7 linked regions of the Homo sapiens genome follow. The protein of the gene in region 1 interacts with the protein of each later gene in a biochemical or structural test. Each region holds a gene or a part of one and is shown in the gene's direction. Other genes may lie near its edges. The genes, in order: PDLIM1, HCN2, ABCA2, PALLD, PLEKHA2, MAP4 and KCNV1.

Region 1 (3,500 bases):
TTACCACCTAAATTAGGTATCCCAAATACCATAGCTTAATTTTGCCTGTTTCTGAACAGACTCATACAGAACACGTGTGTGTGTGTGTGAACAGCTTCTTTAGCTCCTTAATGTTTTCATCTAGTATCGTTATCAACTTAAAATTTCAACCCAGGTTTCCAACTTTAAGTGGACATAGGCTAGCTTCTTTTACCCACATTCTCGTTTAGTGCTCTTGCCTTGTGTTCCCTGATGATCCAGCCACACATTTGCCACTGTTCTCTGATATTTTTTTCTGTCAGTTCCTGCTTCAAATCAACACTTGCCCATTTCCTTGAGGTATTTTTTTAATTAAAAAAATTTTCCATGTTAATTTCTCCTTCCCTCTAGTTACTTTCAAGGGAAGCCTTCAGAGAAATACCCAGGCCAACATTGCAACTCAGTTTATGTTGACTGTTTTTCTCTCCCAGCAACTGATAAAAGACAGGAAAGGGTGAGGCCAAGATCAAGGGATGCCCTTAGTTGGAGGAGTTGCTCATTTGTCTCTGGAGTCCTGGGGAACCCTTTGCTAAGAGCTGAGCGGTTCTGTGGCAAATGCTTATGCTTTTTCTCAAGTATCCCAAGGGATGCTTAATAATGGTTACTGTGGCCAGAGGGTCATTTCTGATTTTTAAGAGTGGTATTTCCGGATTCAGATAGATTTTACATCATGTCGTAAAGATTGAAAGAGAAGGGTTTGTCTGTCAGATTATGAAAAGCAGGAAATGTCCAAAAAGGGTCATTATGTTTTAATGGCCATTGTGCTGCATGCCCTTGGTCTGTGAAATTGATACCTGGGAAATATTAGCGACTTCAGCTGCTCACAGCTGACTTAAGGAGAGAGGGGGAAGAGGACAAACCAAAGAGAATGACATGTAAGTGAATGCCTGAGCCCATACTACATTATCACCCTCTGACCAGATAGTCTCCCCTCCCTAAACTCCTGATGCCAACCTTGCTGGTTTGTTTGAGGAGGCAAGAGGGAAGAACAGTGGCTTTAGGGTATTGCAGCCAGGTAGATGACTGAGAGGAGAGTGTCATCTAAGCGTCTGGGTCATATTCTCCTAGGCTGACCAGGACTGGGAAAAGCACCAAGGAATTGCTGTGTACTGGGATCAGGATAGGACTGGCACATTCTTAGGCCATGCCTTAACTCTTGCTCCACAGAGGAGAGGAAAGCTAGCATTCTTTGCCTTTTGCAAACAGAAAAGCTCAGGTGCTCACAGGTTAGGTAATTTGGTTGAATTTACATAATTTCTCACTGGCTGACTTACTACTCAACTTCCTTGTAAAGGATAGGATAGAGACTGGAGCAAAAGTGGTTGTGTCAGAAAACTAACTTTTAAAGGATTATTTCGCTTCCAGTAGGTCTCAGAGGAAAGCCTGGGGGAAGCTTCCAGGACTTTAATTGAGGGCCTGGTACAATGTCCAGGGCAGGGACTCAAGCTGAGCTCTAGTCCGGAGCACCTTGGTGGGTGATCCTGGGAAAATCATATGTCTTCTCCTGGGTTCAGTTCCCTGTAAAGATAAAATAAAATAATATTCCCTGTAAAGATAAAATAAAATAATAAGCAAGCAAACCCAGAGGTTTTCATACCCTTTGAATATGAGAGCTACTTTTTTTTTTTTGAGACAGGGTGTCGCTCTGTTGCCCAGGCTAGAGTTCAGTGGCATGATCTCGGCTCACTGCAACCTCCACCCCCTGGGTTCAAGCGATTCTTGTGCCTCAGCCTCCTGAGTAGCTGGGATCACAGGCATGAGCCACCACATGTGGCTAATTTTTGTATTTTTAGTAGAGATGGGGTTTCGCCATGTTGGCCAGGCTTGTCTCAAACTCCTGGCCTCAAGTGACCTGCCCACCTTAGCCTCCCAAAGTGCTGGGATTACAGGCATGAGCCAAGAGCCCACTTTTTTATTGTTAGAGTGTCCTAGTCTCTCATGGCATTAGTTGTACCTTCAATCATAAGTTGATTTAGAAAACACTGTGATTTCAGGAATGTTTCAGATGTATTTGTCTTCTGTTAATCACAGCAGCATCCATTTACATTTGAAAGATTTGTGTGAGAAATATTTATTTGATCTGCTTGCAGTAATAACCATAGTTAAAACATATATAGGACTTTTAATATGCCAGGCACCATTCTAAGACCATAATATATTCAGTGATCTTCACACGTATTTTGTGAGGTAGGATTAAGATCCCCATTTTACAGATGAGGGAACTGAGGCTTGGAGACCTTAAGTACACTGCCTGCATCATATAGCAGTGAGTGGTAGAGCTGGAGTTTGGCTGGGGAGTCCGGCTTCCAAGCCTGTAGTCTTAATCTCTATGTCATAGTAATATATTAATAACAGCTAACATTTTTTGAGTGCCTGCTCTGTGCTAAGCATGCACTTACATTATCTTCTTCTGTATTCCCCACAACCCATGACAGAGGGACACAGAACACAAAGTCAGACAATTGCAGAGCTGGGAAGTGAAGCCAGGCAGACTCACTTCCAGGCCAGCTTTAACCACTATATTCTGCCTCCTAATAAGCCATAACTGTCAATATTTCATTGCTAACAGTGTTAACCCAGCACACAGCTCTGAAAAGTGCTAAGGGTGGTGCAGGCTTCAACATGAGGGATAAGACACTCCTGGGCTCCACACCCTGGAGCCTCTCATTCTCCTGAGGTTGGTTGGGGTGGCTCTCCAGTTGCCTTGTGGCCTCAGCTCAGAGCACCTCAGAAAGCAGCACCTCCCTTCCCTGTCCCTCCTGAAAAACTGAAAGTCATGGCCCCACCTGGGAGAATTTACAGTCCAGTTATGAGGTTCCATGCCCACTTGGACAGTGAAGAACAAGAGCAGAGGAGTGGAAGGACTGGCTAGAGAAAGACCTGCTTGTGGGGGATAGGAGGGCATTTGGGAATGGTTCTTGTGGTAGATGAAGATGACCAGGCAGTGAACAGTTCCACCTTGCGGTAGCCAAGCTAAGTCCAAAACCGAATATACCCATGAAACCTAAGACAAAAAAGGTAATTCCTGTATGGCTGTTAGCACCCTGTGTGATTATTGATACTCTTGTTAGCCACATCCTGGGCAAATTGGGCTGCTCATCCGTGGCTGAGTTCTGTGGTGCACTTTCCCATGTGTAATACACTGTCTCCTTGGTAAATGCCATAAATACTAAAAATGATTTTGTGAAGAACACAGCGGTCTTGTAGGAGGCCAGATTCCTTACTGAACACTCAGGGACTAATTTTTATAGACACGACCATTCGTATCAAGTAAGACAATAAGAACATAGATAGGACCTAGTTTAGATAAAGATATTGAAAATGCATACAGAGGCTGGGCTTGGTGGCTTATGTCTGTAATCCCAGCACTTTGGGAGGCCAAGGTGGGTGAATCACCTGAGGTCAGGAGTTTGAGGCCAGCCTGGCCAACATGGTGAAACCCTGTCTCTACTAAAAATTCAAAAATTAGCCAGGCGTAGTGG
Region 2 (3,500 bases), on another chromosome or scaffold:
CGAGCTCAACGGGCCCCTGCGGGAGGTGAGGCGGGCGCCGGGCGGGCGGGAGGCAGCCTCCGGTACAGGGCCGGCCTCCCTCTCCTGGAGCCCAGGAGCCGGTCCCTGAGGGAGGCGAGGTGCCTAGGCTGCAGCAGGAGGGACTCGAGCTAGACCTGCGTACACACCCTCCCCTCCCCGCCCCGTGAGCCTCTGCACCCCCAGGACCCCCGCCACCCCCGCCTTGCTTCCCGCTGCCCCCTTAGCAGAACTGCCTGGGTCTGTGCCTGACAGGGCGGGGCAGAAGCAGGGCAGGGGGTGGGGAGGGAGGAGCCGCAGAGGCCCCGCTGAGCACCAGGTCCTGGGGGCACTGAGGCTGATTGGAGCGGGTTTAACTCCCAGCTCTGTTCCGGTAGCCTGAGTGACCCTGGGCAAGTTTCCCAGGGTTGCGGGAACAAATACCCACAGGCTGAGTGGCTTGAACAGCGGAGATTCGGCCTCCCACCGTCCTGGAGGCCGGAAGCCCAACATCAAGGCGTGGGCCGGGCCGTGCTACCCCCCCGGAGCCCCTGGGGAGGATCCTTCCTGCCTCTTCCGGCGTCTGGGGCTCCAGGCGCCCTTGGCTTGCAGATTGATCTCCCTGATCTCTGCCTCCATCTGCTCACAGCCTTCTCCCCTGTGTGTCTCTGTCTCTTCTTGTAAATTCATCCGTCGTTGGATCAGGGCCCACCCGGTTCCTCGTGGCCTCGCCTTAACTGGGCCATGTCTGCAGAGACCCTATTTCCACATAAGGTCCTATTCACAGGAACCGGGGGTCAGGATGTCAGCCTGTCTTTCTGGGAGATGTAGTTCAACCCACAACACACATCAAACAGTTATTGAGCGCCGACTGCGTGCCCTGCCGTGTGCTTGAAGGTCCCACCCTCAGGAAGCGGGGCCTAGGGATGGCGGCCGTGATCACGCAGGCAGCAGAGAGCAGCTCTGGGAAGCGGGGAGGGACGAGGACGGGGAGGCGACATCAGCAAGGCCGTGTGTGAGCCAGGCAGGGTGTCCCCGGTGTAGCACCTGGCTCGGGCAGAGGCCCCGAGGAGGGGCTGGAGGAGCTGGGCGAGGAGGCGGGCAGGACGGGCCTGACACTAGGGACCTCGGGCCCCGGGAATGCCTCTGGGGGGGCGTGTACACCCGTTGCTCCCAGGAGGCACACACTGCGGTTCGCTTCGCCAAGAATGTTTAATTGCATTTGATGACTACGGTTTCCATTCATTCATTTGTAGAGATATAACACTCAGACCACAAAATGCATAAAATGCGGTGGCTTTTAGTATTAACAGAGTGCTGCACCCGATACCACAGCCTCACTCCAGAACATTCTCATGGGCCCAAAAGGAGACCTGGGGTGTTAGTCACCAGCTCACTCCCCGTCCCCAGCCCCTGGCAACCCACGCTACTTAGTCATTATTTAGGTGTTTAGGAGTTGCAAAGTCAAATCTTTAAACCCACATATGGCCAGGCGTGGTGGCTCACGCCTGTAATCCCAGCACTTTCAGAGGCCGAGACGGGCAGATCACCTGAGGTCAGGAGTTCGAGACCAGCCTGGCCAACATGGTGAAGCCCCGTCTCCACTAAAAATACAAAATTAGCCGGGCGTGGTGGTGGGCGCCTGTAATCCCAGCTACTCTGGAGGCTGAGACAGGAGAATCGCTTGAACCCAGGAGGCGGCGGTTGCAGTGAGCCGAGATTGTGCCACTGCACTCCAGCCTGGACAACAGAGCGAGACTCCGTCTCAAAAAAAAAAAAAGTACCAAAAAGTGCCCCAGGTCATAAGGGCACAGCTCGATAGCTGGTCCCTAAAGGGAACGTGGTGTAACCACCACACAGAACGAAGCTGGAACGTTCCTGCCGTCCTTAGAAGCTGCCTTTGCTAAGGGGAATTGCCCTGACTTCCCACACCATTGATTCATCTCCAGACCCTTGGTTTTCATGTTGATTTTTCAAAAATCACCTGATAGTCTGACCGAATGTAGCTTTCCACTGGTGTGTGTGTGTGTGTGTGTGTGTGTGTGTGTGTGAGAGAGAGATGGAGTCTCGCTCTGTCACCCGGGCTCCAGTGCAGTTGTGTGATCTTGGTTCACTGTAACCTCCTCCTCCCGGGTTCAAGAGACTCGTGCCTCAGCCTCCCGAGTAGCTGGGATTACAGGCACCCGCCACCACACCCAGCTAATTTTTTGTATTTTTAGTAGAGATGGGGTTTCACCATGTTGGCCAGGCTGGTCTCGAACTCCTGACATCAGGCGATCCACCCACCTTGGCCTCCCAGAGTGCTGGGATTACAGGTGTGAGCCACCACGCCCGGCCTTATTTTTCCCCCATTTTCTTTTTTTTTTTTTTTGAGTCAGGGTCTTGTTCTGCGCTCAGGCTGGAGGGCAGTGGTGTGGGGATCACGGCTCACTGCAGCCTCGACTTCCTGCACCACCACGCCTGGCTGTTTTTTTTTTTTCCGGTAGAGACGGGGGTCTTACCGTGTTGCCCAGGCTGGTCTAGAACTCCTGGGCTCAAGCGATCCTCCCGCCTCGGCCTCCGCAAATGCTGAGATCACACGCGTGAGCCCCCGCACCCGGCCTCCTTTCCACCGCTCTTGTCTACAGCCGCCCCTCCTGGTCCGATTGTATTGGCAGATGTCGCCAATACGGTGTCAAACGGCGAAGGGGCACTGAGCGTTTTTTCTTTCTCCCGTCCTTGGCGGCAGCAGCTCGGTTCCGGCTACGGGGCTGAGCCCGTCTCTCAGACGAGGAAACTGGGGTCCGAGAGGTGAGCCGGTCCCAGAGGCAGGGCGAGGGGGAAGCGGGAGTGGGGTCCGCAGCGGACCCAGCCCTGCCTCCCCCCTGCAGGAGATCGTCAACTTCAACTGCCGGAAGCTGGTGGCCTCCATGCCGCTGTTCGCCAACGCCGACCCCAACTTCGTCACGGCCATGCTGACCAAGCTCAAGTTCGAGGTCTTCCAGCCGGGTGACTACATCATCCGCGAAGGCACCATCGGGAAGAAGATGTACTTCATCCAGCACGGCGTGGTCAGCGTGCTCACTAAGGGCAACAAGGAGATGAAGCTGTCCGATGGCTCCTACTTCGGGGGTGAGCTTGAGGGGGGCGCGCCTGGAGGGGGAGGGGGCACGCGACCCCCGCGGTGTGCAGAGCCAGGGGGCCGGGGCCGGGGCCGGGGCCGGGGATGGGGATGGGGATGGGGATGGGGCCGGGGATGGGGATGGGGATGGGGATGGGGCCGGGGATGGGGATGGGGATGGGGCCGGGGATGGGGATGGGGCCGGGGATGGGGCCGGGGATGGGGCCGGGGATGGGGCCGGGGCCGGCACCAGGGAGAGCCTGGGTGGGAAGCGCCCACGCTGGCCAAGGTGCAGAGGCCGGGCCGTGTGCCTGGGCGGGGAGGGCCGCGGCGCCCGCCTCGTCCAGCAACCCCCCCCTGCGCGCCACGTGCAGAGATCTGCCTGCTCACCCGGGGCCGCCGC
Region 3 (3,500 bases), on another chromosome or scaffold:
TCCTCAAGGTGTCGGAGGAGGATCAGTCGCTGGAGAACAGTGAGGCCGGTGAGGGGCCTGGACCACTTGCTCAGCCCACCCCACCCACAAGGCCCCAGCTCGGGCCTGCGCTGTCACTCCTGCCTGGTGTCTGGGGGCGCCACCCTGGTCCTGGGTGGAAGCCAGGGGACGCCCCGGGGTTAGCCTGCGGTCCTAGGTGGGTGGTCCTGGTGGCCAGAGGTCCCGGACAGGTGTATGAGCCTGGGAACTGGGGTCAAGACCGGGGATGGGGGTCCTGGGCAGGCCTAGGGGCCAGTAGCCCTGAGTGTCCCCTCGGCCCTTCCACTGCGGCAGATGTGAAGGAGTCCAGGAAGGATGTGCTCCCTGGGGCGGAGGGCCCGGCGTCTGGGGAGGGTCACGCTGGCAATCTGGCCCGGTGCTCGGAGCTGACCCAGTCGCAGGCATCGCTGCAGTCGGCGTCATCTGTGGGCTCTGCCCGTGGCGACGAGGGAGCTGGCTACACCGACGTCTATGGCGACTACCGCCCCCTCTTTGATAACCCACAGGACCCAGACAATGTCAGCCTGCAAGGTGGGGGTGGCAGGGTGAGGCTGGGACAGCAAGGGAGGGGGAGCAGGGTTGCGGGGGAGCGGCATGAGGGCAGCCAGTAGGGAGAGGGTAGCGTGCAACCACCTGCTCAGCCTCTACCTCTCTGCACAGAGGTGGAGGCAGAGGCCCTGTCGAGGGTCGGCCAGGGCAGCCGCAAGCTGGACGGCGGGTGGCTGAAGGTGCGCCAGTTCCACGGGCTGCTGGTCAAACGCTTCCACTGCGCCCGCCGCAACTCCAAGGCACTCTTCTCCCAGATCTTGCTGCCAGCCTTCTTCGTCTGCGTGGCCATGACCGTGGCCCTGTCCGTCCCGGAGATTGGTAGGCCACCGGCTGGACAGGGGTGCTGGGCTTGCCTCCCCCCACCGCCCGCTGGGAGCCCTGATGATGCCCACTCCTGAGCTTCCTGACTCTGGGCCTCACCCCACACCTGAGGCTGGGCACGCACCGGGGTTCATCCGGGAGTCCTGTCTCCTCGGGTCCCAGACCCCAGGCGTGGATCCCTTGGGGTTGGGGGAAGGGGACCGAGGCTTGGGGGCCGCTGGCCAGAGGGCAGAACCTGCTCAGGCCTCCCTGCTCGCCCTGCCAGGTGATCTGCCCCCGCTGGTCCTGTCACCTTCCCAGTACCACAACTACACCCAGCCCCGTGGCAATTTCATCCCCTACGCCAACGAGGAGCGCCGCGAGTACCGGTGAGGCCTCCAGCGGGGGCAGCCTTGGTGGGTGGGGCGAGTGAAGGGGCGGGGACAGCCTTGGTGGGCCAGGCGGGCGAGGGGGCGGGGCTGGCGAGGGGCGGAGACTGGCAGCCCCACCTCACACTGTCGGTGCCCGCAGGCTGCGGCTATCGCCCGACGCCAGCCCCCAGCAGCTCGTGAGCACGTTCCGGCTGCCGTCGGGGGTGGGTGCCACCTGCGTGCTCAAGTCTCCCGCCAACGGCTCGCTGGGGCCCACGTTGAACCTGAGCAGCGGGGAGTCGCGCCTGCTGGCGGCTCGGTTCTTCGACAGCATGTGTCTGGAGTCCTTCACACAGGGGCTGCCACTGTCCAATTTCGTGCCACCCCCACCCTCGCCCGCCCCATCTGACTCGCCAGCGTCCCCGGATGAGGACCTGCAGGCCTGGAACGTCTCCCTGCCGCCCACCGCTGGGCCAGGTAGTGGTTCAGGGGGCCTGCTGGGGGGGCAGGGGCAGTGAGGGGTCCTTCTCACCGCACCATGCTGTGCCCACAGAAATGTGGACGTCGGCACCCTCCCTGCCGCGCCTGGTACGGGAGCCCGTCCGCTGCACCTGCTCTGCGCAGGGCACCGGCTTCTCCTGCCCCAGCAGTGTGGGCGGGCACCCGCCCCAGATGCGGGTGGTCACAGGCGACATCCTGACCGACATCACCGGCCACAATGTCTCTGAGTACCTGCTCTTCACCTCCGACCGCTTCCGACTGCACCGGTGAGCTGGGTGGGGAGGCTGTGGGTGAGGGTGGCCGGCCACCAGCCACCTAGTCTCAACTCCTGCCCCTCTAGCCTCACTGCCTGCCTAGCCTCACCGCCCCTCCCACCTGCCTGCCCAGGTATGGGGCCATCACCTTTGGAAACGTCCTGAAGTCCATCCCAGCCTCATTTGGCACCAGGGCCCCACCCATGGTGCGGAAGATCGCGGTGCGCAGGGCTGCCCAGGTGAGCGAGGCTGCGGGCCTGGGCCCCGCTGTGTGTAGCGCCGCCCGAGGTCTGCAGGGACCCAGGTCTGAGGTCCTGGGGCCTTTCTGTGTCCTCTTCCTTCTGCAGGTTTTCTACAACAACAAGGGCTATCACAGCATGCCCACCTACCTCAACAGCCTCAACAACGCCATCCTGCGTGCCAACCTGCCCAAGAGCAAGGGCAACCCGGCGGCTTACGGTGAGCTGACATAGGCAGGGCGGGGCGGGGCGGGGAGGAGCTGGGGCCGGGGCGGGGAGGAGCTGGGGCCTGAAGCTGCCGCCCCCGCCCCGCCGTGTGCAGGCATCACCGTCACCAACCACCCCATGAATAAGACCAGCGCCAGCCTCTCCCTGGATTACCTGTAAGTGTGGCCAGTGGGGGATGAGGTGGGGCAGGTGGGCACTGCAGCCCCGGCCGTGAGGACTGAGGGCTTCCTTGCCCCAGGCTGCAGGGCACGGATGTCGTCATCGCCATCTTCATCATCGTGGCCATGTCCTTCGTGCCGGCCAGCTTCGTTGTCTTCCTCGTGGCCGAGAAGTCCACCAAGGCCAAGCACCTGCAGTTTGTCAGCGGCTGCAACCCCATCATCTACTGGCTGGCGAACTACGTGTGGGACATGGTGCGCCCGGCGTGGCCATGGGGTGCCCCGGCCCTTCTCATCCCCCATCCCCGCCCTGCCCCGGGTCTCTCACCAGCCGCCCCCACCCCTGCAGCTCAACTACCTGGTCCCCGCTACCTGCTGTGTCATCATCCTGTTTGTGTTCGACCTGCCGGCCTACACGTCGCCCACCAACTTCCCTGCCGTCCTCTCCCTCTTCCTGCTCTATGGGTAAGCGGAAGCGGAGGGGGGAGCGGCCTCAGGTGGGACCGGGGCTGCCTGGTGACCACTGCCCGCCACCTGCCCGCAGGTGGTCCATCACGCCCATCATGTACCCGGCCTCCTTCTGGTTCGAGGTCCCCAGCTCCGCCTACGTGTTCCTCATTGTCATCAATCTCTTCATCGGCATCACCGCCACCGTGGCCACCTTCCTGCTACAGCTCTTCGAGCACGACAAGGTGGGGCGGTGACGACATGGTGGGGGTGGCGGACCCTGCGGAGGCTGTGCCCCTCACCCCGGCCACCCCTGTGCCCCTGACCCCGGCCACCCCGCAGGACCTGAAGGTTGTCAACAGTTACCTGAAAAGCTGCTTCCTCATTTTCCCCAACTACAACCTGGGCCACGGG
Region 4 (3,500 bases), on another chromosome or scaffold:
ATGTTACAAAGAACATCTTAAGGAATAGAAGATACATTTACAATTCATTAAGTGGAAGTGGGTCATCATAAAGGTCTTCATCCTCATTGTCTTAAATTAGAGTGGTCTGAAGAGAAGAAGACAAGGGGTTGGTCTTGCTTATCTCAGGGGTTGCAGAAGCGGAAGAAAATCCATATATAAGTGGACCCATGCAGTTCAAACCTGTGTTGTTCAAAGATCAACTGTTTAGTCTTAATATCTAGTCAAAATAAAATAGAAAATATTATCTCTTTATCTTCTTTCACATATATACAGATGTTCTTCAACTTAGTATGGGGTTATGTCCTGATAAACTCATTATAAGTTGAAAATATTGTAAGTTGAAAGTGCATTTAAGGCGGGGCGCAGTGGCTTACGCCTGTGATCCCAGCACTTTGGGAGGCCAAGACCGGGTGGATTACCTGAGGTCAGGAGTTCAAGACCAGCCTGACCAACATGGTGAAACCCCGTCTCTACTGAAAATACAAAAATTAGCCGGGTGTGGTGGCGTGCGCCTGTAGTCCCAGCTACGCGGGAGGCTGAGACATGAGAATCGCTTGAACCCAGGAGACAGAGGTTACAGTGAGCCAAGATCGTGCCACTGCACTCCAGCCAGGTGACAGAGCGAGACTCCATCTCAAAAAAAAAAAAAAAAGTGCATTTAATACACCTAACCTACTGAACATCTTAGGTTAGCCTAGTCTATCTTAAATGTGCTCACAACACTTACATTAGCTTACAGTTGGGCAAAATCATCTAACACAAAGCCTATTTAAAATAAAGTATTGAATATCTCATGTGATTTATGGAGTCCTGTACCAAAAGTGAGAAGCAGAATGGTTGTGTGAGTACTCACAGCACCGTTACTACCAAACGCATATTGCTAGCACAAAAGTTTCACTTAAGGAAAATTAGAAATCTTGCTGCATTCTTATTATTTCTATTATTAGTCTTCACATCTTTTTTTCTACCATTACAGGACATTGGTTCTCCTCATGCTTCTGTAGGGAGTCCTCTGGATGGTCAAAAGGTTAAGCTTTTCACCTTTCTTCTCCTTCCAGTCTTTCTCTGTGTCTGTTTTCTTCTGTTCTTCCTGTTTTACGTGTGTTTCTATCTTTTCTGCCATATATTAATTATAAATGCTATGACCAGTGTCTGTTTCATTTAATATCAGATACACAAAATTACTGCAACATGAGTTTTCTTGTCATGTATTTACCAGCTTGAATTTATTTATTTATTTTTACTTTATGTATTTATTTATTTATTTATTTATTTTGAGATGGAGTTTCGCTCTTGTTGCCCAGGCTGGAGTGCAATGGTGTGATCTTGGCTCACTGCAACCTCTGTCTCCTGGGTTCAAGCGATTCTCCTGCCTCAGCCTCCCAAGTAGCTGGGATTACAAGTGCATGCCAACATGCCTGGCTAATTTTGTATTTTTAGCAGAGATGGGGTTTCACCATGTTGGTCAGGCTGGTCTCGAACTTCTGACCTCAGGTGATCCACCCGCCTTGGCTTCCCAAAGCGCTGGGAATACGGCATGAGCCACAGTGCCTGGCCTCTGACTTGAATTTAATTCTGTCATTAGTGGATACTCTGAACATTAAATCAAGAAAAATTTTTCATTTGTTATATATACCTTTCTATGGGGAACAAAAGTGCTAATTCTTCAAGGGATTAATTTGATAGTAATTAGATGAAGCAAAACAACTTGTGGTATAACTCTTGCAGTTTTATTCATACTGTTGTATTTCTTCCCTCAAACCAACAAACTTGTTTTTTAAACACTGAGTAACTTCTTTAAGAGAAAACATAGTTAAAGTTATCTTTCATTTAATATTAAATAGGGAATATTTACATAGACTCCCTTGTCTTCATTGCACTTTTTTGTTTTGGAGACAGGGTCTCACTCTTTTGCCCAGGCTTGAGTGCAGTGGCACAATCACGGCCCACTGCAGCCTCGACTTCCCAGGCTCAAGTGATCCTCCCACCTCAGCCTCCCAAGTAGCTGGGACAACAGGCATGTACCACCATGCCCAGCTACTGTTCTTTTTAAATTTTTTGTAGAGATGGGGTCTCACTTTGTTGCCCAAGCTGGTCTCAAACTCCTGGCCAGAAGCAATCCTCCCACCTCGGCCTTCCAAAGTGTTGGGAATTACAGGCATGAGCCACTGTACCTGGCCTTTAATGCACTTTGTAGGCAAGGAAATTGTAGGATCCACCGTAATCACCACAGGAATGTTGATGGGTTGTTTTTTTTTTTTAAAGCAAAATTTTGGCTAGACTGTCAGTCCTATTTTTTCTTCTAAAGATGGTGGGTTCCTAACAGCTGCAGAGCTGAGGAGGCGGCCCTTGCAAGGCAGGGATTGTTAGAGGTGGGGGAAAAAAAACAAACATTTTTTTTTTTCTATTATTCTTTTACTATTTTTTCTATTACCATTTTTTCTAGTACCATTTTTTCTATTATTCTTTTACTATAATTGTATATAATATGGCAGCTGCTTGCCACATGTACTATGTGGAGAGATGTACCACCCTGCATCAGCTTTTACCCTACAGAAGGAAATCAGCGTTCCATTATATTTTATTGTTATCAACAGTTTAGGAATACATAGCTTTGCTTTTGCCTTTTTCTTTCCTTCCCCTTGTTTCCCCTCGCCTCAGAGAAAAGAAGGAAAAAAAAATTCATCTTTCCTACCCCCCTCTTTTTGGATGATAGGACTTGAAGACAATCTGAAATACCACATAAACTCACTTCCAGATGTTTTTTGTTTCATATGCAATTGAATTGGGCTCAGACTGTGTTTTTAAGCTGTATGGTAAAAATATCACTGTCTTCTAGGGCCTTATTGGGGGGCAGGGAGAGACGTGACACTTTGTCAGAAGGGATTGAGTCTGCTAACTTAAACTTTCCTTGATTCAGGAATACAAAGTCTCCAGCTGTGAACAGAGACTCATCAGTGAAATAGAGTACAGGCTAGAAAGGTCTCCTGTGGATGAATCAGGTGATGAAGTTCAGTATGGAGATGTGCCTGTGGAAAATGGAATGGCACCATTCTTTGAGATGAAGCTGAAACATTACAAGATCTTTGAGGGAATGCCAGTAACTTTCACATGTAGAGTGGCTGGAAATCCAAAGCCAAAGGTGAGCTGGGAGATGGAGGCTTTTTAAGAGTCATTCTCTGAGGAAAGGTTTAGCTTCCAAAACATAGCATGCCAGTAGGAGAAAGAGATACAAATGATCTTTCTCAATACCCACGATATAAAGGGTTTTAAATATTCTTAAGTTCTGGGCCATCTTCAGGAGGCATTAGAAACCAAAAAAGGTGGTGGGGGGAGTGGAGTTTGGGTTTGAAGAATAGAGAATAACTAACAGGGAGCTCTTCACACACCTATATCATTTATTCCTCGTTGTTATTCCCAAATCACAAATAACTAAACTGAGTTCTGTGAAGTGAGTTTCCAAGGTCAGAGAGCTGGTG
Region 5 (3,500 bases), on another chromosome or scaffold:
AGAAATACCTCCTCTGTTTCTTGCCCTTCCCTGAGATATATAGGAATGTTCTCCGATTCCATCAGCCCCTCTCTGGGCACCTGGAAGGTGCTTATTTTCATGGTTAGGCCATCAGGGCAGATGTAAAGGCAATTGTTCCATGTGTCTGAGGGCAGCGAGCAGCCTGCTGCTTCATCTCTCTGAGTGTTCTGATTGGAATCCATGCATTTGTAGCAATATTGCCTTCAGCTTGGAGAACGATTTAGGGAGAGGGTTGGCGGTTGAAAGAGGAGGGGAGGAGGGGAATCTTGCTAGTGTGAATGAGGCCAGGATAGGTTTTCGTCAGGACTTAGTGGCTTTTAAAAGTCTTTTTGAGCTGGGTGCAGTGGCTCATACTTGTAATCCTAACACTTTGGGAGGCTGAGGCGGGAGGATTGCTTGAGCCCAGGAGTTTGAGACCAGCCTGGGCAACATAGCAAGACCCTGTTTCTGCAAATATTTTTCTTTTTTAAAAAAAACTAGCCAGGCATAGGGGCATTTAAAAAAAATTAGCCAGGAGGTGGAGACTGGAGGATCACTTGAGCCCAGGAGTTGGAGGCTGCAGTGAGCTATGATTGCACCACTGTACTCCAGCCTGGGTGACAGAGTGAGACCCTATATCTAAATAAATAAATAAATAATAAACATAAGTCTTTTTGTAAAGATGAACAGACCTCAAGATAATGGTTATCTCTGACGGTGGGGATTCTGTCAGGGAGGGGCACACAGGGCTTCTAAGAAATAGGACTGATAATGCCTGTTTCTTAATCTGGATGATGAGTACAGGGTTTTCATTTAATTATTATTTTTTAAAAATGTAGACATATGTTTAATGTACTCTTTATATATGAGAAATTTCACAATAAGAAATCTTCAACATTGTAAGACACATATTCATGTTTCTTTTATTTCTTATTTGATTTAGGTGAGCATAGCTACCCCAAAACAGAAACCAAAAACTCCATTTTGCTTTGGTAAGTACTGAGCCAGGGGAGGGACTCATTTAATATTGACATGGCAACTTCCTCTTTTGCATGGAGACAGTCCTGTGATCACATGTGACTATACCCTGTGAGTATGAGTGACTTAAATCACAGTGACGGTCCTGGACGTCAAGTGATATTGTTTTCCCTGGTCTTGCTGCAAAGGTTGTTAATAACATAAGGACAGAGGTTCAGGGACTAGTAACATTTCTGTTTTCTTTCTTTTTTTTTTGGTTTTAGTTTTATTTTTTAAGTTGACAAATAATAATTATATATATTCATGGGGTACATAATGTATAGAGTAATTAGCATATCTATATTAGTCTGTTCTTGAACTGCTATAAAGAAATACCTGAGACTGGGTAATTTAAAAAGAGAACAGGTTTGCCCGGGCCTGGTGGCTCACACCTATAATCCCAGCACGTTGGGAGGCCGAGGCGGGCAGATCACCTGAGATCAGGAGTTTGAGACCAGCCTGGCCAACATAGTGAAACCCCATCTCTACTAAAAATACAAAAAAATTAGCTGGGCGTGGTGGTGAGTACCTGTAATTCCAGCTACTCGGGAGGCTAAGGCAGGAGAATCTCTTGAACCCAGGAGGCGGAGGTTGCAGTGAGCTGATTTCAGGCCATTGCACTCTACTCCACCTCAAAAAAAGAAAAAAAAAAGAGGTTTAATTGGCTCAGTGTTCTGCAGGCTCTATGGGGCCAGAGGAGAAGCAAGAAAGAGAGTGGGGAGGTGCTATGCATATTTAAATAACCAAATTTCACAAGAACTCACTATTATGACACAACAGCATGGGGGATGGTGTTAAACCATGAGAAACCGCCCCCACGACCCATCATGATCCAGTCACCTCCCACCAGGCCCCACCTCCAACATTGAGGATTACAATTGAACATGAGATTTGGGTAGGGACACAGATTTGGGTGGGGACAGAGATCCAAACCATATCAATGTCCATCATCTCGAACATTTTTTTCTTTTAATAATTGTCCATATGCATTTCAGTTTTCTTGATGCCACAAGGCAGGTGCAAAATGTCCACTATAAGTTTCTGTGAACCTTATTTTAGAGCTGAGAAATGTTGTGCTCAGAAAAGATGGAGGACTCAGAGGAGACGCAGATGGCAGTGCCAGGAAGGGGATAAGACAAAGGAAGGAGAATTCTGTTAAGGGTCTCAGTTGCCCAATAGTGACATGTTGGGGGATGGTGTAGGAGGCAGAGTCACCGTGCATGGGTGCCTCAAGTCAGGAAGTGGTCAGTGAATTCAGTGAATCCATCATCAAATAGTTACTTGGCTCCTACTATGTTCTCACAGCTGTGCTAAGTGCTATGAGCAAATGCTAACAAATAGTTTCTGTTGCCTATCTGGGGTGGTTCTGAATGTAAGTTTCACAAAGGCAGGGGTATTCCTCTGCCTTGTCACTGTGGTATCCTCAGCACTTAAAGATGTTTCCTAGCGCATAGTAGGTGCTCAGTAAATATTTGTCAAATGAATGAATGAACGGATGAATTCTGCATCTACCCCATGAGACTCACCTCCTACAGTTCAAGCTTATGCTAAGAGAATAAAGTATTCCCTTGAGCGATTCTGTCTCCCCACCTCAGATTTGTTCAGACTTCTTTGGCATGCTCATTCTTCTATTTCTTGCAAATTTCATAGCTAAGCTCAGAAATGACTCTCACGTTTTGTGGTTATCAGATCTGAAAATATATATATGTAATAATAGTGAATGTGGAAGTAAATTGTTGACCTAATGGAATGCTCAGAGGAAAGAACAGGTTGAGAGTGAGGCCAAGGTCACAGATTTGATCTCAGGAAAGCTTTGTTCTATTTCCCAACCACAGACAACTCTCCCAGTCCAGACCAGTTGTGCCAGAGGAGACCAAGCATGGGTCCAAAATTCTGTATATACCGTGATGACAGTAAATGTATTAGCACCGCCAGAATGCGGTTCACAGTTGTGTCTTGTTGACGGCAGACCAGCAGCCTCATCACCGCAGAACAGCACACTGAGGCTGCTGTTAACATGGTCAGGTGTTGTTCCTGTGGCCAATGGGATGTTTTTAAAGGTGGGAAAGAGAGTGAGCAGGTGTGGCCTGGGGCTTCCTAGATATCCAGGCAAATGACTTAGCATCATGGGAGATTTCTTGTTCTGCTTTGTGGAGTTCACTCATCTCACTCCCTCAAACACCTTAGCTTTGTGGAGACTTGTTGTATTGCTTGTATTCTGACCTAGGAATGTCTTCCCTTCTTTTCTGTGGCTTTTGTAGTTATCAATGCCCTGTCTCAGAGATATTTCCTTCAAGCCAATGATCAGAAAGATATGAAGGACTGGGTTGAAGCCCTGAACCAAGCCAGCAAGATCACCGTAAGTTTGGTTTCTTCTGTTTTCTGGTGGTAGTAAAAGTGCCTCTTCCCAGGCTATGGCCTTGTTGGGGTTGGGGAAAACTGAGATGGCAGCGGGGACTTTCCCAGGAGCCTGGTCTGTACCC
Region 6 (3,500 bases), on another chromosome or scaffold:
TCAAATTCTCTTGACTCTTACTCACAAATCTATTTAAAGTTAACTTTATTATCTGTATGGATAGAAGAGGAATAGTATAAATGGTCAATTGGTCAGTGAGAGGTTTTTTTTTTAGAGTAAATGCTTCTCATTCACAAGGGTTCATTTTTTGATCCTCCTGAACATCCAGATTTGAAAATAATAGTGTCATATCCTTTTATCCATAAAATATGTAACTAAGCATTTAAGGCATAACCGAATAGTAAGTAACTTCAAGTGATTCTGTGTGAGATGAAATTCATACATGAATTTATTAAAATTAATTTTGGAATACTTGAACCAGTTTAACATCTATAGAGCATTTAAAGAGTGTATTGTACTTATACATGTTTCAGAATAAAATAACTATAAAATTGGATAATCGCTTTAATTTATTGAAAACTGGGGATTTCTGGGAAAAAAAAAACAACAGTACTTTAACTTGAAAGATGACACTAGCATTACCTTTCTAGGATCATTTTCCATAAGGGGGTGTGTGTGTGTATTTTAAAATCATATTCTATTTATGTGGTGACAAGTAAAGAATAGCTTAACTGTTGATGAAATACAGATGCTAAGTGGCTAGCTAGATGTGCTCATAGCTTCATGACCTTCCCACTTTCCAATTGTATAATTTTCTATCAGTTTTACCCTCTTAGGCTGAATTTCAGCTACTGTTCATATTCCATGAACCACATGCAGCCCAGGAAGTCATCTGAGAGTGTGTGGCTGGGGGCGGGGTGGGGGTGCTGAGGGTTGGATAGGGGAAAGATTACAATGGATAAAAGCTGCCCTTTGATAATCTGCATTCTGATAAATGATATTTAAAATGTATTGGTGTTTTTGACTGTATTTTTACCCTGTGCCTTAAATGAGGAAAAGATTTGAGTAGATTGCATCTTATGTCATTATGTATTTCTGGGGAAAATTAAATTTTGGATTTTTATGGTATGTTGTTAAGGATGGCACAGATGTCCTTTTAAGTTCTCTTTGACCATGAAACTGATGCAGGATTTTTGCTCCTTAGCTCAACTAGGTCCAGGTTCTTATCTCAGGAGCGGAAGAATTAGGCACGTGGACATCAAAGAGTGAGTGGAGTAGAATCTATTAATCGAAAGGAAAGCTCTTAGCAAAAAGAGAGAACATGGTAGGTGGTTCTACTACCTGAAGACAGGAAAGTTCCGTAATATGGCTGAGCCTGGGGCTCTTTATTGGTTCAGAATGGGAGTGTGTGGTCATTGGTTTGTGAGTATGCAAAAAAGGTCAAAGCGAAGACACCACTCCAAGGTGGGCAGGACAGTGTAGAAAACCAATTAGGAAAGGGTAGGTACAGGTTAAATAGGTGAAGGATGGGGATCAATCATGCCAAACGGGAAGGCAGGTTCTTAATCCGATCTCAGGATTTACCCAGGACAGTTTCCGGATTAAAGTTCGGGTTTCACTGAGGACCCGCCCCTGTCTGCCTAGACATTTGTTTGCCTCTTGCCTCTATCAAAACTAGTTACAGACGTCCTTTTTAGTTTTTGGTTCATAACAGCTCCCAAAGGATAACTACTAATAATAGTTGTCAGAGATAGAATAGGGAAATGGCATAACCGAATAGTAAAAGCAACTGAATAGTTGCTTTTCATGGAACCCTTTGACATTATAATCTGTTAGGCTTTTAAAAGCTCTTTAATGAACTCATTTCTCAGCATTTTCCCTGTCATGATCTGGAGTTACAATAATACTTTATATGTAAAGTAGGCTGGACGAGCATAGAATAGGGCTTCCCACCCACATTCGTCTGTTGTAAATGGGTCACAGGTGTGCCACTACTACTATAGGAACTTTTTTTTTTTTTTTTGAGACGGAGTCTTGCTCTGTTACGTAGGCTGGAGTGCAGTGGCGTGATCTTGGCTCACTGCAGCCTCCACCTCCTGGGTTCAAGCAATTTTCCTGCCTCAGCCTCCTGAGTAGCTGGGATTACAGGTGCATACCATCTAAATAATAAAAATCAGTGCCCAGCTAGTTATTCTGTTTTTGTATTTTTAGTAGAGATAGGGTTTTACTGTGTTGGCCAGGCTGGTCTCAATCTCCTGGCTTCAAGTGATCCACCCGCCTTGGCCTCCCAAAGTGCTGGGAGATTACAGGCTGGGATTACCAAGTCCAGTTCCTACTATAGGAACCATTGAATTCCTATTTATGGTTCCTTCAGAAAAGCTGCTAAATCCTGAATTCGGCAGTGGTTATTCAAATAGTGGAATTTATAATTCCAGTAGTGTGAGATGGCATTTGCTGTGGACAACAGCTCTGTCATGCCACAGGAGCCCCTTTGGCAGCAAAGCTATCAGTTTTTGTCACGAGCCCCACACTACTTGTTTTAGTCAGGATTCTCTTAGAGGGACAGAACTAATAGGATATATCTCCAAAGGAGAGTTTATTAAGTATTGATTTACGTGATCACAAGGTCCCACAGTAGGCTGTCTGCAAGCTGAGAAGCAAGGAGAGCCAATCCGAGTCCCCAAAATGAAGAACTTGGAGTCCGATGTTCGAGGGCAGGAAGCATCCAGCACGGGAGAAAGATATAGGCTGGGAGGCTAGGCCCATCTCTTCATGTTTTTCTTCCTGCTCTATATTCGCTGGTGGCTGATTAGATGGTGCCCACCCAGTTAAGGGTGGGTCTGCCTTCCCCAGCCCACTGACTCAAATGTTAATCTCCTTTGGCAACACCCTCACAGATACACCCAGGATCAATATTGCATCCTTCAGTCCAATCAAGTTGACAGTATTAACATTACAAGTCCACTCCTTGTCAACTTGAACCCATATACATCTGAGATCGTATGTAATCTTAAAATAAAGACAATAATAAGGTCATAATTACACCTAATGTAATAAAACTATCCTTCATACAACCAGAAACACACCAATCCCCAACCCAAATACTATTACATAAAGTTAATAATACTTAAATGCTGTTATGAAATCAATAAATCTTATGTCACATGATAAAGGAAAAGGAAATATAAAGTGAAGATATTAGTACATGTGTATACATACACAAACATGTTTTTAACAAATGAAGGAGGAAATACTCATGGCAGTTACAGTCCTCATTTCTGCAGCTGGTCACGTGGTCATAGCTGGTATTGATGACTACCTTCTTCTACCCATTCTGTATTAACTTTGCCTTCCCCAAATACCTCAGCAGGTCATGGGTTTTTTTCCTGGTGGAGTGATCCAAACCTTCATTCCTGAATGGTCCGGATCATTTGTAGTCCTGCCTGGATTTGGCTGTTGTGGTTTTGCATTGACAGTAATCACAGGGCATGGTAATACGAAGAGATGCCCTAATGGGTCTCATGTATTCCATGCATACTCTTCCTTACTTCCGTTGTGAAGTTGTAGACTGATTTCATCTTGATAGTCTGGGTCAGTCACCTTAGCCAACACTGTAACTCCCCCTCTGAGCCTGTTGACTTAAAGGGAGGAGGAGCCCA
Region 7 (2,636 bases), on another chromosome or scaffold:
AGAAGTTCAATATGCCTTAAGTAAAATATCAGCTTATTCTCAGAGGTGGAATGGTGCTTTTAAGAAAAGGCTGTGGTGACACCTTATAGTCATTATTAGATTAAAAATATATTATCTTTAGAGTAAATAGTAGTTGGAAATAAAAAAAATTAAAAACTATGTGTATACATATGTATATATGTTTTTATCATGGAGGATCCTAAACATCTTCTCTACAAATGTGCTGTTAGCTATATAAATGTTGTCAAGATGTAGGTCTTCAGAAAGAAGTTTTAAAATATCATTGCTTACTCAATTTTGCTGTTAAATAAAATATCATTTTATTTATTCAATGAATGTATATATAAGCAAACCAAATTTCATTTAGGTAAAAAAATCAAGGCAGGAACTCTGCCAATTTTATAACCCATTATTTTAAAACAGTAAACACTTTTTAAACATCTAAGAATTATTGTTATAAAACAATATTTAATTTTTTAAAATATAAAATAATTGAATTATTGTCTTTCTCTAAGCTATTTAGAGAACACTACTTTCTTTGTTTTGTTTTGGTTTGGTTTTTTGAGACGGAGTGTCCGTCTGTCGCCCAGGCTGGAGTGCCAGTGGCGCGATCTCGGCTCACTGCAAGCTCCACCTCTTGGGTTCACACCATTCTCCTGCGTCAACCTCGCGAGTAGCTGGGACTAGAGGCGCCCGCCACCACGCCTGGCTAATTTTTTGTATTTTTAGCAGAGACGGGGTTTCACCGTGTTAGCCACTTTCTTTGTTAATTTAACTGTTATTTTAAGTTCAGGGATACATGTGCGGGTTTGTTATACAGGTAATCTTGTGTCATGAGAGTTTTTTTGCACGGATTATTTCATCACCCAGGTATTAAACCTAGCACCAGTTATTTTTCCTGATTCTCTCCCTCCTCCTACCCAGCACCCTCTGATAGGCCCCAATGTGTGTTGTTTCCCTCTATGTGTTCATGTGCTCTCATCATTTAGCTCCCACTTATAAGTGAGAACATGTGGTATTTGGTTTTCTCTTCCTGCATTAGTTTGCTAAGGATAATAGCCTCCAGCTCCATCCATGTCCCTGCAAATGACATGATCTCATTCTTTCATATGGCTGGATAGTACTTCATGGTGTATACATACATTTTCTTTATCCAGTCTACAGTTGATGGGCATTTAGGTTTATTCCATGTCTTTGCTACTGTGAATAATGCTGCATTGAACATACGTGTGCATGTATCTTTATAATAAAACAATTTATATTTCTTGGGTATATACCCATTAATGGGATTGCTGGATCCAGTGGTATTTCTGTTTTTAGGTCTTTGAGGAATTGCCACACTCTCACATGGCTGAACTAATTTACACTCCCAGTATCAGTGTATATGCGTTCCAATTGCTCCATAACTTCGCCAGCATCTGCTTTTTTTTTTTTGCTTTTTAATAATAGCCATTCTGACTAGTGTGAGATGGTATCTCATTATGGTTTTGATTTGCGTTTCTCTAATGATCAGTGATATTGAGGCTTTTTTTCATATCATTGTTGGCTGCATGTATGTTTTCTTTTGAAAAGTGTCTGTTCATATCCTTTGCCCACTTTTTAATGGGATTTTTTTTTCTTGTAAATTTGTTTAAGTTTCTTATAGATGCTGGAATATTAGACTTTTGTAGATGTATAGTTTGCAAATATTTTCCCCCAATCTGTAGGTTGTCTGTTCACTCTGTTGATAGGTTCCTTTGCTCTGACAAAGCTCTAGAGTTTAATTAGATCCCATTTGCCAATTTTTGCTTTCGTTGCAACCACCTTTTGTGTCTTCATCATGAAATCTTTGCCTGTTAGAAAACACTACTTTCAGACATTTAAATGCATATAGGCAATGCTTAAGTACCTAAAAAAGCAATTTTAAGAAATTACTGAGGTATCTCTATTAAGAGTGACATATTCATATTTTATTTTATGTATATATTATTTCTATAACATACAAGAAATTGTTGCATTTATCATTTTAATGCAAAGTAGTATCAAGTATAATGGATTAGATGCAAAAATAACTGAGGTAGGAATCTCAGTTCTGTGTTTTAATGTGGAATTCTTATGCTTATTAAAATATTTTGATTAGCTGTTGCAGAAAATATATATGCTGACCCAATTTATCTAAGCAAAACATTGTCATTGGATAAGCTTAATACTTTGAGAAATATTTTTATTGATACATTATGTTAACAAGAAAAGTCTCTTCTTTTGAAATATTAGCCATTAATAACTGTCTTATGAATCCTTCAGTTCAGATCCAACAAGATATTGGATAGCAGGCAAATGATGTGTTCTGATGATCTCCTTCATGATTTTTCTTTGCAAAGCATCACCACCCCAGAACTCTCTCCAAGCCATACTAATATAAGGAAGACAAATGTCACACAGGGAGAGCTTTACTCATCAACGGCAGTTGCCTACCTGGTACGTTTTTAGGGACGACAGGGAAACCTGGATACTCACCATCCTTATGTTCTCACTGTGCTTATATTACATTATATTATATTATATTATATTATATTATATTATATTATATTATAATCACTCCCTTGCTTGCCTTTTCAACTCTAGTGCCCCTCTCTTCCTTCCTGGTATTAAATTGG

What was found.
Region 2: the proteins of PDLIM1 (region 1) and HCN2 interact in a test that uses a peptide from one of them, tested with the Homo sapiens proteins (one large-scale study listed by IntAct).
Region 3: the proteins of PDLIM1 (region 1) and ABCA2 interact in a test that uses a peptide from one of them, tested with the Homo sapiens proteins (one large-scale study listed by IntAct).
Region 4: the proteins of PDLIM1 (region 1) and PALLD interact in a test that uses a peptide from one of them, tested with the Homo sapiens proteins (one large-scale study listed by IntAct).
Region 5: the proteins of PDLIM1 (region 1) and PLEKHA2 interact in a test that uses a peptide from one of them, tested with the Homo sapiens proteins (one large-scale study listed by IntAct).
Region 6: the proteins of PDLIM1 (region 1) and MAP4 interact in a test that uses a peptide from one of them, tested with the Homo sapiens proteins (one large-scale study listed by IntAct).
Region 7: the proteins of PDLIM1 (region 1) and KCNV1 interact in a test that uses a peptide from one of them, tested with the Homo sapiens proteins (one large-scale study listed by IntAct).

What each region holds. Positions count from the first base shown.
Region 1 is NC_000010.11:95,284,504-95,288,003, reverse strand, and holds part of PDLIM1 (PDZ and LIM domain protein 1), read left to right. Parts: intron 1-3,500. UniProt on the Homo sapiens protein: Cytoskeletal protein that may act as an adapter that brings other proteins (like kinases) to the cytoskeleton. Involved in assembly, disassembly and directioning of stress fibers in fibroblasts.
Region 2 is NC_000019.10:610,381-613,880, forward strand, and holds part of HCN2 (potassium/sodium hyperpolarization-activated cyclic nucleotide-gated channel 2), read left to right. Parts: coding exon 1-25; exon of another isoform or gene 26-774; intron 775-2,498; exon of another isoform or gene 2,499-2,867; coding exon 2,868-3,108; intron 3,109-3,471; coding exon 3,472-3,500. UniProt on the Homo sapiens protein: Hyperpolarization-activated ion channel that is permeable to sodium and potassium ions. Displays lower selectivity for K(+) over Na(+) ions. Contributes to the native pacemaker currents in heart (If) and in neurons (Ih).
Region 3 is NC_000009.12:137,011,238-137,014,737, reverse strand, and holds part of ABCA2 (ATP-binding cassette sub-family A member 2), read left to right. Parts: coding exon 1-48; intron 49-333; coding exon 334-570; intron 571-699; coding exon 700-906; intron 907-1,174; coding exon 1,175-1,277; intron 1,278-1,419; coding exon 1,420-1,736; intron 1,737-1,812; coding exon 1,813-2,026; intron 2,027-2,147; coding exon 2,148-2,253; intron 2,254-2,361; coding exon 2,362-2,473; intron 2,474-2,575; coding exon 2,576-2,636; intron 2,637-2,719; coding exon 2,720-2,894; intron 2,895-2,988; coding exon 2,989-3,104; intron 3,105-3,183; coding exon 3,184-3,331; intron 3,332-3,428; coding exon 3,429-3,500. UniProt on the Homo sapiens protein: Probable lipid transporter that modulates cholesterol sequestration in the late endosome/lysosome by regulating the intracellular sphingolipid metabolism, in turn participates in cholesterol homeostasis.
Region 4 is NC_000004.12:168,895,552-168,899,051, forward strand, and holds part of PALLD (palladin), read left to right. Parts: intron 1-41; exon of another isoform or gene 42-201; intron 202-997; coding exon 998-1,048; intron 1,049-2,941; coding exon 2,942-3,163; intron 3,164-3,500. UniProt on the Homo sapiens protein: Cytoskeletal protein required for organization of normal actin cytoskeleton. Roles in establishing cell morphology, motility, cell adhesion and cell-extracellular matrix interactions in a variety of cell types.
Region 5 is NC_000008.11:38,942,846-38,946,345, forward strand, and holds part of PLEKHA2 (pleckstrin homology domain-containing family A member 2), read left to right. Parts: intron 1-943; coding exon 944-992; intron 993-3,278; coding exon 3,279-3,376; intron 3,377-3,500. UniProt on the Homo sapiens protein: Binds specifically to phosphatidylinositol 3,4-diphosphate (PtdIns3,4P2), but not to other phosphoinositides. May recruit other proteins to the plasma membrane.
Region 6 is NC_000003.12:48,009,917-48,013,416, reverse strand, and holds part of MAP4 (microtubule-associated protein 4), read left to right. Parts: intron 1-3,500. UniProt on the Homo sapiens protein: Non-neuronal microtubule-associated protein. Promotes microtubule assembly.
Region 7 is NC_000008.11:109,963,136-109,965,771, reverse strand, and holds the end of KCNV1 (potassium voltage-gated channel subfamily V member 1), read left to right. Parts: 3' UTR 1-2,136; downstream 2,137-2,636. UniProt on the Homo sapiens protein: Potassium channel subunit that does not form functional channels by itself. Modulates KCNB1 and KCNB2 channel activity by shifting the threshold for inactivation to more negative values and by slowing the rate of inactivation.